Linked DNA regions of Homo sapiens: region 2 is linked to region 1. The links come from fine-mapping of genetic effects on gene expression. Tissue or cell type: whole blood. Region 1 holds a variant in brackets; the other region holds the start of a gene. All regions are shown on one strand. Distances are from middle to middle.

Region 1 (8,000 bases):
TTTATTCAACCAGAGCCTACTTAGAACCTAAAATCTTGTCTACATGTCAGTTTAAACTATATTTCTAAATCGTTTTGCTTCATTTCACCATATTAGAAGCTACTTCTTAAAAATGTGTTATAATGTCATTACAAAAAAAGACTCATAAAGATAAAGCTGAAAAGAGATAACCTTTAGATTCAAGCAAAGACAGATTCACCTACAATAAGATATAGCCAAAAATGCCAACTGCTAGCTAAAACCACTGAAATACAAAAGTACACTCAAGATGTTTATAGTTCTATAAACACCTATATAAGTAGTAAACACAGAATAGAAAAGCACATATTATAAGGAAAACTCCAGCTAATCACCAATTTTTTTTGTTTTGTTTTGTTTTTGAGACGGAGTCTTGCTCTGTCACCCAGGCTGGAGTGCAGTGGCACGATCTCCACTCACTGCAAGCTCCGCCTCCCAGGTTCAAGCCATTCTCCTGCTTCAGCCTCCCCAGCAGCTGGGACTACAGGTGCCCACCACCACTCTTGGCTAATTTTTTGTATTTTTAGTAGAGACAGGGTTTCACCGTGTTACCAGGATGGTCTCGATCTCCTGACCTTGTGATCCACCCGCCTTGGCCTCCCAAAGTGCTGGGATTACAGGCGTGAGCCACCGCGCCTGGCCGCTAATCACTAATTTAATGTAACATTCAGAATTTTTTTTTTTTTACTGCAGGGCACCATGGCTCACACTTGTAATTCCAGCTACTTGGGAGGATGGGCTGAAGCCAGGAGTTTGAGACAAGCCTAGGCAAAACTGGGAGACCCCATCTCTAAAAAAAAATATTTTAAGGAAAAATAAAGCATTTTTATTAAATTACTAAAAAAGGAAGAGGAAGACAGTTCTTGAAATATTGTCATTACTCATAAAGGAAATTAACATTAAAACCGGCCAGACATAATGGCTCATGCCTATAATCCCACCACTTCAGGAGGCCAAGGCGGGCAGACCTCTTGAGCTGAAGAGTTCGAGACCAGGCTGGGCAACATGGCAAAACCCCATCTCTACAAAAAAATACCAAAAAAAATTAGCCAGGTGTGGTGGCATGTGCTTGTAGTCCCAGCTACTTGGGGGGCTGACATGTGATCACTGGGGCTCAGGAGGTCGAGACTGCAGTGAGCCATGTTCACATCACTGCACTATAGCCTAGGCTGGGTGACAAAGCGAGACCCTGTCTCAAAAACAACAACCAAAAACCAAAACAAAACATTAAAACTGACAAGAGTCCACACTGATAAGTGAATTTTTTATTTTTATTTTTTGAGACAGTCTCGCTCTGTTGCCCAGGCTGGAGTGCAGTGGCAGGATCTCCACTCACTGCAACCTCCATCTCCCAGTTTCAAGCAATTCTCCTGCCTCAGCCTCCAGAGTAACTGGGATTACAGGCACGCACCACCACACCCAGTAAATTTTGTATTTTTAGTAGAGATGGAGTTTCATCTAAGTGAATTTTTTAAAAAGAAGAATAGATAAATCTCTGGTGCAAAATAACTACAAATAACTTATATAGATAGGCTACACTCAAGGAGGTACAATATAACTTCTTGCACATTAAGTGTGAGCTAAGCATAATGACTTCCTTCCAAAGAGTACAATATGGAGAGAAAGGGAGGGTGGGGAGTGGGGGGGGGGGTAACTTCACAATGAATAAACTGACAATATCTTAGCCAGGTGATCAAGGTCAACATCAATAGTGATAAATCATGTTAATGTATGTACTCTTGATATGATGAGATGATAAGTCTCAACTGAGGGACATCTATAAAAATACCTGACTCTTCAAAACTGTCAAGGTCATTAAACACAAAATCTGAGAAACTGTCACAACCAGGAAGATCCTAAGGAGACATCACTACTAAAAGTCTTGTGGTATCCTGAATGGGATCCTAGATGCAAAAAAAAGGACATTGGGTAAAAACTAAGGAAATCTGAATAAAGTATGAACTTTAAATAGTAATATATCAGTACTGGTTCACTAACTGTAACAAATGTACCAATCTTATGTTAGATATTAATAGGAGAAATTCTGGATACTGAGAGAATTAGGAATGGGGGGAAAAAAAATAGGTATTCTCTGCACTGTGTTCTTAATTTTTCTATAAATCTAAAACTCTTCCAAAACATAAAGCTTTAATAAAAAACTGACAATAATTGACTTGGTAGCAATGAAGGAGAAATGCTTTAAACACACTTTTAAAATGCAAAGACAGACGATAATTTCAGATAAGCTAACAGACTTAAAAAGCAGACCAATGTAGATACAGTAAATATAGCAAACAAAAATATAGTACCACGGAAAGAAAAATTAAGAATCTTATTTTATTTTTAAGTAAAACTACCAACAACAATATAACATTTTCCCAGGCTTAATCAACACTGCTTTCCCAATTTTAAAGCAAATTCAAAAAGCTTTTCTAGTTTTTCAAGGGTTTTCAGCTCAGAAGAAGTTTAACTGCTATTTTCTAATTAATGAAATTATAGTTAATAGCAGGACAAGGAAATATGACATTAAGTTGAAATTCAACAAATTATTTCAAGAATCAAATTTTAGAGATGAACCTGGAATACTTTCATTCTCTTCAGAGCCCTGGGATTGGCATCACCCAGTTAATACAAATATTTAGCCAAATTAACTTACTCTTCAGAAACTGTTTAAGTCCAGCTTTTTTTTTTTTTTTTGAGACAATGTCTCACTGTGTCGCCCAGGCTGGAGTGTGGTGGCGCGATCTCGGCTCACTGCAAGCTCCGCCTCCCGGGTTTTCAAGCAATTCTCCTGCCTCAGCCTCCCAAGTAGCTGGGATTGCAGGTGCTCACCACCACACCTGGCTAATTTTTTGTATTTTTAGTAGAGACGGAGTTTCGCCACGTTGGCCAGGCTAGTCTCGAACTCCCAACCTCAAGTGATCCACCCGCCTTGGCCTCTCAAAGTGCTGGGATTACAGACTTGAGCCACCGAGCCTGGCCCAAGTATGGCTTTTTAAAGGAAGCCAAGGTTGGGGAGAAAAATATGCTAAAATAAAATAGAGGAAAAAAAACCCAAAACAGGACTCCACTTCACACATTGAAAAGTAAGTACCAGACAGATTACAGATTTAATTGTTTTTCAAAAAAACAAAACTGTGTCAGCATGTAGTTGAATAAATTTTAAAAACCTTAGGATTAAATACAAACTTGCACCAAATGTAGAATCTATAAAGAAGGTGAAAAGTAATAGCTCAGACACCTTTTGTTTGGCTGTGTTTTTAAAGCTTTGAGTTAGGTGCCCAAAAAACTATTAGCTGCCACCACTTCAGAGACATCACATAGCCACTCCAGCTTCTACTGAACTATGAGCAGACCTGAGAATTTTGGGCCCATTTTTCCATATGACAACAATCCACTGATGCAGCTGTCCCTTTAGAAGAAGTGCCTGTACTCTACCCGACCAGAGTCCAACTCTACCCCCCAAATTCAGGCTAATTTCACTATATATGTTACCTAGTCAGTTTCCATAAACACTGGCCTTTGAACACCCCATTCCATTAAGGAAACGATTACAAATTTGACTAAGATGTCTATAAAAGAAAGAAAAACAGTCAAAGCTTAGCCAACCAGCAAATACTAGGCAAATAAACCAGAGCAAAAGGACCAGCTGCAAGCACTGAATATATTTAACTCTAGAACTAAGATTTTTAAAATGTGGGAGATTAAGTTAAAAGAACACAATATAAATGTCATAATATTTCTACATTATCAAGAAAATAACAAAAAAAATGGAAGTGGAAAAGGGAGAAGACAGGTTAAGTTAAAGATAGGGAGAAATGAAGAAAGGAAAAGGGGAGAAAAAAAGATAGGGAGAAATAAGATAATATTATTTAAATAAAATAGCAGAAGCTAAAGCTGACAATAAACAGCAGCAAACGTTATCTGCAAGATTGCTATGATGTGACTGTCTATTACAATCCACAGCAATCAGCCCACATTGATTGACTGAGACTGGGATCTGCACACTTTTAAGATCGCACTGTCACACAAGCTGCCTTCCATTAAAGCAAAAATTCTTCAAGTATTACCATTTGATTTAGAAACGGAATGACCAGCATATAAATCTTTTGTTTGATAACTTATAATGTTTAGACTCTCAGGTAAATGAACTACTTATAGTGTAAATAGTCTAGACACCCTTCTGAAAATTAATGAGTCAAAAATTCAAAAAACTACTCCAAGATGCCTATCTAAAATCAAAGATAGTCGTAAGAAACTAAAAATTGGGGCACAGCCTAAAATTTTTCATTACACCCCAAAACAGGAAAATTGGTAGTGATCATGATGTTAATAACCATAGTAGATATGTTTTTTTAAAGATTAAGCAACATAATCAAGGTCAAGATAATGCATTACAATAAAATAAAGATAAAAATGAAAACTGCAGCCATAAAAAAGAATGAGTTCATGCCCTTTGCAGGGACATGGATGAAGCTGGAAGCCATTATTCTAAGCAAACTAACATAGGAACAGAAAACCAAACACTGCATGTTTTCACTCGTAAGTGGGAGATGAACAATGAGAACACATGGATGCAAGGAGGGGAACATCACACACCAGAGCCTGTTGGTGGGGAGGGAGAGCATTAGGACAAACACCTAATGCATGCAGGGCTTAAAACCTAGATGACAGGGCCGGGCGCGGTGGCTCACGCCTGTAATCTCAGCACTTTGGGAGGCCGAGGCGGGCAGATCATGAGGTCAGGAGATCGAGACCATCCTGGTTAACACAGTGAAACCC[C/T]GTCTCTACTAAAAATACAAAAAAAATTAGCCGGGCATGGTAGCAGGCGCCTGTAGTCCCAGCTACTTGGGAGGCTGAGGCAGGAGAGTGGTGTGAACCCAGGAGGCAGAGCTTGCAGTGAGCTGAGATCGTGCCACTGCACTCCAGCCTGGGCGAGAGCGAGACTGCGCATCAAAAAAAAAAAAAAAAAAAAAAACCTCGATGACAGGTTGATAGGTACAGGAAACCACCATAGCACATGTATAACTATGTAACCTGCACATTCTGTACACGTATCCCAGAACTCAAAGTAAAATTTTAAAAAAAAAAGATAATGAAAATTTTAAATTAACTTCCCAGTGGTACATCAAATATATAAAATAGATGTTTGCAGCCAAAACATGAGACAGAAAAGTATTCTACTGTTTACACACCTAAATATACTACTAAAGGACAAGGAAGACCCTTCCTCCAAAATTATAAAAACAAACACATAATTGGGAGGCCGAGGCGGGCGGATCACAAGGTCAGGAGATCAAGACCATCCTGGCTAACACGGTGAAACCGTCTCTACTAAAAATACAAAAAAATTAGCCAGGCGCGGTGGCAGGCGCCTGTGGTCCCAGCTACTTGGGAGGCTGAGGCAGGAGAATGGCATGAACCCAGGAGGCGGAGCTTGCAGTGAGCAGAGATTGCACCACTGCACTCCAGCCGCCTGGGCGACAGAGCGAAACTCCGTCTCAAACAAACACACACACACACACATAAACAAAAGCAACCAAATTAAGATGAGAAACGGGAAGGGGAGAATACCAGGTTATAAGAATGAACAAAGAAAATATCACTTGCTTTACCATGATACATTTTTTTCTTACATAAGATATTAGACATGGTTTTTAAACTAAAGGGAAGAATTATGGAGACAGAGAAGAGAAAAATATGCAAACTGAAAGACGTGCTGAAAGAAATGAAATCAAGGCTAGAAAGAAAGAGGAAAAAACAGAAAAAAAGAGATGAGAAAGAGAGAGGAAAAAGAGGAGAAACAGTAGGGAAGAAAGAAAAAAAGAAAACAAAAAAAAAGAAGTCGCTAGTCTATTACCTTCTTGAAGACCAGGATGTATCACCTGCTTGTGCCGCAAAGTCTTCAAATCTTCTATCAATTCCTTTTCCAACTGGGAAATTCTTGCTCTGTAACCTACACCCAAAATAAATAGTAATAAAATAAGCTACTGTACACTACAGACAAATGAATGTTGCATGTTTCATTGCTGGAGCCCAAACCACAAATACAACTCTTTTTATACTATTTTATAATACCTGAGTCATTTGTGGTTGATGCCTGGAGACTAGAAGATTCTTCTGTTGTCCCATCAACTGCATGAATGTCTAGAGCTTCCTATACATCAAAAAAAAAAAAAAATAGTAGTTCATATTGCTTCTGAAAACTTAAATGTAAAACAGGATTAAAAAAAACTTAAAGACCAGAAGGAAAATATCTCCATGCCTACAGTTACGCTAACATTGGCAGAACAGGAGCAATTTTTTCATACTTTTTGATATTTTCTAAGTGTTCTACATTAATATTACTTTAATAATCAGAAGGGGAAAAGGGGGAAGTAAAAAAATGTGAATACGATGTCATACTGAGCTAACTGACCTCAAAGTATACGCCAATTTGCATGTTCACTTCTCAGAGCCTATATTCAGATAGCTTACTCAGCTAACAAGAAGGGAGGAAAAGAACAGGTAGAAGGGATTAAATATCCAACATCTGTGTAGTCAATTAAGAAAGACAGCCTGGCACAGTGGCTCACGCCTATAATCCCAGCACTTTGGGAGGCCGAGGCAGGTGGATCACAAGGTCAGGAGATTGAGACCATCCTGGCCACATGGTGAAACCCTGTCTCTACTAAAATAAAAAAAATAGCTGGGCATGGTGATGCACACCTGTAGTCCCAGCTACTCGGGAGGCTGAGGCAGGGGAACTGCTTGAACCCGGGAAACAGAGGTTGCAGTGAGCCAAGATTGTGCCACTGCACTCCAGCTGGTGACAGAGCAAGATTCCGTCTCAAAAAAAAAAAAAAAAAGAGGCCAGGGGCAGTGGCTCACGCTTGTAATTCCAGCACTTTGGGAGGCTGAGGCAGGAGGATCACGAGGCCAGGAGATCGAGACCATCCTGGCTAATATGGTGAAACCCCGTCTCTACTAAAAATACAAAAAAAATTAGCCGGGCATGGTGGCGAGCACCTGTAGTCCCAGCTACTCGGGAGTCTGAGGCAGGGGAATGGCAAGAACACAGGAGGCGGAGTTTGCAGTGAGCCAAGATTGCGCTACTGCACTCCAGCATGAGCCACAGACCGAGACTCCATCTCAAAAAATAAATAAAAAAAGACTGGGCTTCTATAAAAATTTCCAAGAAAAATAATCTGGTTGAAGAGTCAGAGTGGAATAAACAGAGACTTCAATGTGTAAGACAGGAGAGTTAAGATGACTGTTAATATTTGGTTCTCCAATGGTACTCTACTACTACTACTGAAAACCAGGGCCAGGAGCGGTGGCTCATGCATGTAATCCCAGCACTTTGGGAGGCTGAAGCAGGCAGACTGCTGGAGGCCAGAAGTTAGAAATTAGCTGGCCAACATTGCAAAACCCCGTCTCTACCAAAATTACAAAAATTAGCTGGGTGTGGTGGCACACGCCTGTAATCCCAGCTACTCGTGAGGCTGGGGCACGAGAATGGCTTGAACTCGGGAGACGGAGATTGCAGTGAGCTGAGATCGTGCCACTGAACTCCAGCCTGGGCAACAGAGCAAGACTCTGTCTCAAAAAAAAAAAAAAAAGAAAAGAAAAATAAAAGAAAACCAGGAGGTAAAAGAAATGGAGCGTCACCAAAGAGTTAGTAAATATTTCATGTATTTTTAGTCCTTTCCAAAATCCATAATGATGAAAATTCCAGTAAGACCCGAAGACTTTTTTTAAACACAGCTATGCAAAAATCGTAAACTGAAATCTAAGCAAGACATACTTTTTTAAGTCTATTCAAATGAAGTATCTTAAGTTATTCCTATTAACTAAACCAAACATTTTGGAGACACTTCCCTCCCAACTCCACCCCCCATACACCCTCACAAATAGATATCACAAAACTAGATTGTAAATCGAGTTACTTACAAGCCAGTATACAATTCAAGTATGACTAATTAGCCTTAAAGAATCCTGAA
Region 2 (8,000 bases), 74 kb before region 1:
GCATAAAACTTTAAATCAGTCTTTTCCAATGTACTCCACTGAAGAGACTCCCCTCCCTCTGAAAAAGCTTAATAAAAATCTCAGCACTCATCTACTCTTTGATGTAACTTAAATCTCCACCTCCACTGGCTCTCTCACACCAGCTTTTAGCCATATTTTTAACTAGGTCTCCCCTGAATTAAGAACCCTTTACTGAGCACTGCTTTCTGCATACGTGGACTTCTTCTCTCTTATGTTCTTCACACCTAATTAGGCTGCATCTCTACTTCTTTGTCACCATTTTATTAATCGTAGTTTTGATCTCTCTTCTAAAGAGGTCATAAATTCCTCCTGATTATTTTATTCACCTGGATGTCCAAGTTTATCCCGCACTATATTTGACATCTTTAAATTAGTCTCATTTATTTTTTTTAGTACTTACTGCCTATCTTACACTGTCCTAAACGGTGTGATGTAAAGGAAATAAAGAGCATGACCCCGATCCTTAGGAAATGAAGACATACATAAAATAACAATAAGATATTGGTTTCAAGGTGGGGGACTAGTCACAGAAAGCCCTGTGGCTCTGATAAATACAGAATTGGACCTAAAAATAAGTGTACAATTTGGTGTAAAGGAGAAGGCTACTTTAGATAGAAAGAACAGTATAATTCAAAGCAGGAGGCCATCTGAAGTAAGAGCTGCATAAAAGCTTTCTGACATTTCCTTCTTTGCCCCCCAAAAGGGGCATGTACCTTTTTGTCTTCAAATTTTATTTGAGAATTAGCTATCCATGAATCACAAATTTCCTGTTATCATGATTACTCACAGCCACCACATGTTAGAGCAACTCACAGAGCTTAATACACTAGAGTAATCACAAGGCAGGCTTTTAGAATAATCTCAGGTAGAGACCTTTTACTAAGGAGTGTGGGGAGTCTGGCATCTCTAGGGTCCTGGGCGCACAAAGACAGCTACTCCTCTTGGGTGCTAAAGATATGCACCAGTCATTTTGCTGCCAGACCATTCAAGGGTCATTCAACTTCAGCTAAGTATTTCTTTCATACACAGCTTCAGGACAGACAAAGCCATCTAAAGCAGTCTGAAGCACTGAATTCCTATTTTAAACAGGGAATGGTAAATGGTCTTGCCAGGGATGCCCCTTTTCCACTGTTTTCCTGGAGAGCTCTTCTCCACCTGCCTTAGGACTCACAGTTCAAGCATCCCTTCCTCTGTGAAGCCTTTCCTTTTTTTTTTTTTTTTGAGACGGAGTCTTGCTCTGTTACCCAGGCTAGAGTGCACTGGCAGGATCTGAGCTCACTGCAACCTCAGCCTCCCGGGTTCAGGCGAGTCTCCTGCCTCAGCCTCCCGAGTAGCTGGGATTACAGACATGCACCACCACGCCCGGCTAATTTTTGTATTTTTAGTAGAGATGAGGTTTCACCATCTTGACCAGGCTGGTTTCGAACTCCTGACCTAGTGATCCATCCGCCTTGGCCTCCCAAAGTGCTGGGATTACAGGGGTGAGCCACCATGCCTGGCCTGTGAAGCCTTTCCTAATTCCTCTGAACTGACTTAGGTCGCCTCCCCTGTGCTTCCATTAACAACGTACACATACTTCTACAGCAGCACTTACCACACCGTGTTTTAATTGTTTACATGTCTGACTAGCCATAAGCTCTTTGATGGCAAGGGTAATGTTTTACCCATCACTGATTGCACACTTCATAGGCACTCAATAAACACTTGTTAAATGCATTAATAATGGATGATATTGGAAGTCTTAAAGAATGGCAACTATACTTTCTGGATTCCAGACCAAAATTACAGTAAGAATTAACAATGAAGGCTAAACTCTCATTATATGTTTCTACTACATATATCATTCCTGGCCAGAAAAAGAGGCCAAAGATTGGAGAAGATTGCTCTAACAGTGCTGGTCACTGCCAAGCTACCAGCCAAGAATAAGAGCACTTGCAGTATTAAGAATGAACAGAGTCATATCTAAGGCAATTTCTACATTTCAGGCTTCTTTGCCTGCCTCAGGAGAATAGAAACAATGATGAATAAGAGACCTTGGAAGGGTCACAATGTCCACCATCACAAAACCTTGTAGCAAACTGTGATTCAACACAACTTCTGCTGAAATATACAGGAAAGCTCTTCACCTTCTTACCAAATCTACTCAAAGTTCTGCTAAGGAACACAGGGCTGAACTAAGTCCTCCCAGAACCCTGCCATTTGTACAGTGGCATTCTAAATCATTCCTCATGGGATTTACTCATCACTGAAGAGATACAGGCAAAGCAATACAATGCTGTGGTCTCAAATGCCTCTCCCTGTAACAACCTTGTACCTCACAACCCTATTGGGTTTACAGGCTACTAATAAGACACAAAATCTGATCTGATCCTGTGGGAGTAAAGCCCTGGATTCCCTCAAGGGATTAAATAAATGTCGACTACTTCTGGATTCCCAAAGTTGTGGGGTTTATTTAGTTGAAAAAGCATAAGGACCAAAACACAGACAAGTGAAGCGATGGAAAGGAACTTTGCCTCTGAGGATCATCTGCAGCTGAGTGGGATGTGGCTCTTGGCATATAGTGAATGAGATAAGCAATGCTCAAGGGCCATCCAGAACTGTTTTGCTGACAGATATCTGGCTTCTTGCATGTTATTCCTAAGAAGCCAAAAGGCTCCAGTTAGCCTCTTGAAGAGACAAAAAAAATTTGTTTTCACCGTAGGCAAGAGCAATTACCAAGCCAGTAACTCTGACTAGGTGTTTTAGCATATTTCTTTCTGCCACTACAGTCTTACATAACCCCAGCTGTTACGTTAACACCTGCAGCTACATTAGTCACAGCTTAGCCCTTCACAAGGTATGTGTTCCTACTGTCCTCTCCCAAGAAGGGAAACTGAGTCATAGCATATCAACTGGCTTCCCAAGCACATGCTTAGTGTATAGTGAGGCCACAATTGAACCCAGGTGGTCTTCCTACTATTCACCTTTTCTCATGGATGAATCTCAGCATGCCCACCCCTGCTGCTCTTTTTCCTTCAACCTAAAACCAAATCATTGCCTGCAGAGATCATATGTGATCCTTTAGAGTCAACAAGGGCTTCTAGTTATCTTTCCCAAGAAACAGGAAGGTTAACGAGGAACATGGAGCAGGAGAGGGTGGGTTTGGAAAGAGGTGGATCCCAACAGGACTCACCTTGGAGCTGAGGTCCTCTCGTCGGTTTCCTGCCTTACTCCTGCGCAGTTTGATGGATGGAGATCTCAACAGATTCTTGATCCGGCTGGTAATGGTTGACCCTTCCACAGCCATTATGACGAGAAACCCTTTGGGACAGTCCCCGGCCCAGTCCTGGGTCTTGTCTCAACAGCGGCACTGTCTTCCCACTCCAGAGGGCTTCCCAGTATGCCCTCTCACTGACCTGAGATGGCAGAAGCCACCTTAGTATCACAGTGTCTTACCTTCTGCCTAGCGAAGTCTGCAGCTTTTACCTCTGGGTATTGCTCTCACCATTTCCCTCATCCCCACCTTCTAGCCCTGCACAGTTTCTTACAACGTCGGAAGGAAAGGCTCACGAAAAAGGGGGGGAAAATCCTAAGCCACGAAGAAATGCCAGGCCCACGCCCGCCAGAGGCGTTTAACTGGCGAGATGGATGGGATGGGCCCCAGTTGGTCTCGTGGACGATCTGGTTCCCGTTAATGCCCAACTGTTCCCATGGCAACTGTAGTGTCCAAGGGAGGAGGCCGCCGAGACCACCAGGGATTTCCGCAGGCCTGGACACCTGCGCTAGCGCCGGCGGGGACGCGGCGGGGCTCGCCGTAGCCCACAACTCGTTCTGCCACGGGAGCCTCCCTCCCCCACTCCCTATCCTCCAGAGCTCGCTCTCCGCCCTCCACAGCGGCTCTGGACCTTTATCTTTCACCCGCCTCTGAGGCCCCTGCTACTCGTCAGCGCCCCCGTTCGGGCCCAGCCTCACCAGCCTCGGCGAGCTAAGGCCACCCCGCTCACAGCGCCCTCGGGCATCGCGTTCGGCAATTTCAGCTCCGCCGCGGTAGCCGCAGCGGTAGAGGCAGCAGCAGGAGCTATGGTGGCACGATCGGCTCAAAACGCGAACTACCGCCTGGGCCAAGCCGCGGGCTGGGTGGGCGGAGCCGACGCGAGGGGCGCGGCCTGTAGTCAGGAGAGCGCTTCCAGAGTGGACGAGCAAGGTTTACGGGGGCGGAGCCAATGAAAGGGCCCAGGAAGCAGACGGCTTGGGACTAGGGAACCACGGAATCCGCACAATTGCGGGTACCGCTTTTAGAGGAAGGTCAACAGAACATGGCTTCAGAATTGAGAGAACCAAGCCTTTTATGGTATTATCAGGCCTGGTCCCCCATGGAACTGCACTTCCCAGAGCCCCAAGACGATAACCACGCCTCCAGGGTGTTAAGGTTGTCATCTGATAGGCCCGAGGGACCGTAGCTGAAACTCCTAGCTCAGAATTACAAGACTGAGCTACAGCCTAAAAGCTCTGCTCCCAGCGACCACAAGTGTTGAGATTTAAAGCGACTGAAGTAGTTTCTGCTCGCAGCCAGTCCGGCACGTAGACTCAACGTGGAAAGGATTATTCTGAGTAATGCAATTTAATAGCTAAGAACAGTATTTTTGCACTGGGCAACCTGGTCATCATGAAAGGGGAAAGGGTGGCCTTGAACAGAGCTTTGGGCGTGCGGGGGAAAGAGAAGTGAATATGCTATGTTATAATACTTTAGGTTTCATGGCTTCTTTAGCCTCCAACATCCCATTGTGCTTCCTCACCTAAAGCTGACCAGGACTTTGTTGCTCCAGATCTTTTCCTCATTCCATTTACTTATGAATCCTTTTATCTAGGGCTGTTCCTTGCTGAGGTCACTGTCGAGCTTGCTGATACTAGATCGAGGGGTAGTTTTCTAACTCATGTCGGGGGAGGCAGAGGGAATACACGGAAATGTTACATGAAATAGTATTTCCTGAGTATTCTCCACTTGACTACTACCACAAGAAATCACCTTATGAAAAAGCCTAAGCCAGAGACTTGGGTCCCAAGGGAATAGTACACTGGTGTGTCCGTCTCACCCTATCCAGATCTTTTGAATCCCTGTGGAGATGACATGTGTCTGCAAGAGGGAAGAACCTCTAACAAATTATTATACCTTATGAAAAAGCCTAAGCCAAAGACAAGGGACCCAAGGGAGTACTACACTGGTGTGTCTGTCTCACCCTATCCAGATCTTTTGAAACCCTGTGGAGATGACATGTGATAACAAGAGGGAAGAACCCCTAAACTCATTGCTTGTGTACAACGGTGAGCCTTTAGAGCCAAGTGGCAAAGCACATATTTTCTTGTGTATACTGTAGCCACGTACTGAAAATTAGATTTGTAAAGCTCACAAGTTGACATGGAGATGATGGATGTCACCTCCTGGAGACCAACTGGCAATAGCACGTGGCCTTCTTCCCTTCAACCATGCACTGCAAATATTATGAAACAGAAAATACGATTTTCAAATTTATTTCCCAAGTCTGGAAGAAGAAGGCAAGAACCATTAGCTACAATATGCAAGAGGTAGTTGGTTCCTTCAACCTCTTGGTAGTTACATGATGGGACCTCTCCATGGGATTGAAAGCTAATAAATGGTGCCACCTGGTGTCTTTACTTGCATGCTGCAGACCACGGCAGATGCCATCTCCACCCATGAAACTAGAGTAAAAATGTGCCCACAAGAGCCGTCCCTAATCCTCTCCAGATCATTCTGGTGTCCGCTAACGGTTTTCTCACCTGATCACTCATGGCCAGATAAATGGTTTACAAAGTATCACTGGTCATTTCTTTCATGAAAAACAACTGAAAGCATTTTAATGAGGATTTCTTAAGTCTGGAATCTGGGTACTTCCAGTCTTAGGCCAAAGCCACGCTTTTTTTTTTTTTTTTTTTTTTTTTTTAAACAGAGTCTTGCTCTGTCCCCAGACTGGACTGCAGTGGCGATCTCAGCTCACTGCAACCTCCGACTCCTGGTTTCAAGCCATTCTCTTGCCTCAGCCTCCCGAGTAGCTGGGATTACAGGCACGCGCCACCACACCCAGTTAATTTTTGTATTTTTAGTAAAGATGGGGTTTCACCATGTTGGCCAGGAGGTCTCGATCTCCTGACCTCGTGATCCGCCTGCCTTGGCCTCCCAAAGTGCCAGGATTACAGGCGTGAGCCACCATGCCCGGCCCACACATTTTTAATTCTTCACAATTCAGTCCAACTTTTATTGTCTAGGTACTACACTGCCTTTGAGATACCAATATAGGAATAAGCTATATAGGCTATTCCCATTCTTCATTAATTCCTCAGAAAATAACAGTCCCAGGTCTAATGTGAACAGAAGCATTATTCACTTTTCTCCACTCAGATTTACAGTCATGCACTGTATACATTTCAATGACCACATGATCCCATTAAATTATAATATCATATTTTTACCATACCTTTCCTATGTGTAGACACACAAACACCACGTGTTACAACTGCCTATGATATTCAGTGCAGTTAACATGCTGTACAGAGTTGTAGCCTAGGAGCAACACAGCCTAGGTGTGTGGTTAAGCAACACCATCTAGGTTTGTTTAAGTACAGTACACTCTATGATGTTTGCAGAACAAAACCACCCAAGGTGCATTTCTCAGAACGTATCCCCATCATTAAGTGACGCATGACTCTACTTGCCATCCCAATCCTCCAAAATGCAGTTAACTCTTCATAAGTATTTCATCATCCATACACTATTTAACACTTTATTCTACTTTTATATGTCCTAAACATCTATACATAGTGTTTGCCAGCTTCTGAAATTCTAGATGTCTGGGGAATAGACGTTATATAGTTGTCTGTTTAGCACTATACTCATTAGATCAAATTTTAAAATTCACCCTAGGCATAACATGCAAATAAGGTATAAGTTCCTGGGAAACAGTCTAAACATTTGCTCATCAATTCAAATATTTATTGAGCACCTTTACATGCAAAGGCACTGTGCAACAGCTGAGATCAATGATTGCAGTTGGAAACACAATGGATCTCAAAACCATGCTTCCAAGACTGCTTTCCTACTTAATATCTTTTCTACCAGCAGAGTTTACAACAATAGAAATTAGTAGAGTTTAGATTTGTCTCAAAATTTCCAACTCATCCCATAGTCTTCCCATCCTCTTAATGCACCACCATCACTATTCAACACTTATGTGTAGAACAGCTCAGTCATGTCTAACATTAGCTACACCTCAAACAAAAAGTTGTACTTATCAAATTATTTCCCTCTATTCCAAAAAATGCGTTATAACTGATTTTTTTCCTCCAACTGGCAGTGAGTCTGAATATCTCAGCTTTAATTTTCCCTGCACCTAGATATTTGTGTCCATGTAAAATTTCATTAGTAGGCCGGGCGCAGTGGCTCACGCCTGTAATCCCAGCACTTTGGGAGGCCGAGGCGGGCGGATCACAAGGTCAGGAGATTGAGACCATCCTGGCTAACATGGTGAAACCCTGTCTCTACAAAAAAATACAAAAAAATTAGCCGGGCACAGTGTCGGGCGCCTGTAGTCCCAGCTACTCCGGAGGCTGAGGCAGGACAATGGCGTAAACCCGGGAGGCAGAGCTTGCAGTGAGCCAAGACGGCACCACTGCACTCCAGCCTGGGCGACAGAGTGAGACTCTGCCTCAAAAAAAATAAAAATAAAAATTTCATTAGTGATAATACAGTGACATGAAGTACTGATGCCTTTACAGCACCTTCTTCAAAACCAACAGTTTTGTGCAAGAAATGTATTCTGATTCTTGGTTATCAGTCATTCTCTATAAAAGTACCTGGAAAATGTGCTGTGTATGGTTTGTTGTTGTTTAATTCTGGAGTGAGGGACAAGGGCTGTCACTATTTTCTAGACCCGTTTTTAAAGTGCATCACCCTATTTGATTTCAAATATCTCAACCAGTATAGTTAG

What was found. PIP is the estimated chance that this variant, and not a neighbour inherited with it, causes the effect.
Region 2: MAPKBP1 starts here. The variant in region 1 is fine-mapped to the expression of MAPKBP1 in whole blood (TOPMed, PIP 0.98).

What each region holds. Positions count from the first base shown.
Region 1 is chr15:41,697,038-41,705,037 of GRCh38, reverse strand. MGA (MAX dimerization protein MGA) reads right to left here. Exons shown (of 24, transcript NM_001400225.1): 4 at 6,097-6,175; 5 at 5,879-5,974. Among named protein-coding and RNA genes, the nearest start is that of MIR626, 9.5 kb to the right of the region's middle. The variant C/T (reference allele first, on the strand shown) is at 4,801.
Region 2 is chr15:41,770,583-41,778,582 of GRCh38, reverse strand. MAPKBP1 (mitogen-activated protein kinase binding protein 1) reads right to left here and starts at 4,099. Exons shown (of 31, transcript NM_014994.3): 1 at 3,973-4,099; 2 at 3,194-3,416. The coding sequence starts at 3,307. RefSeq lists an enhancer at 4,603-4,652.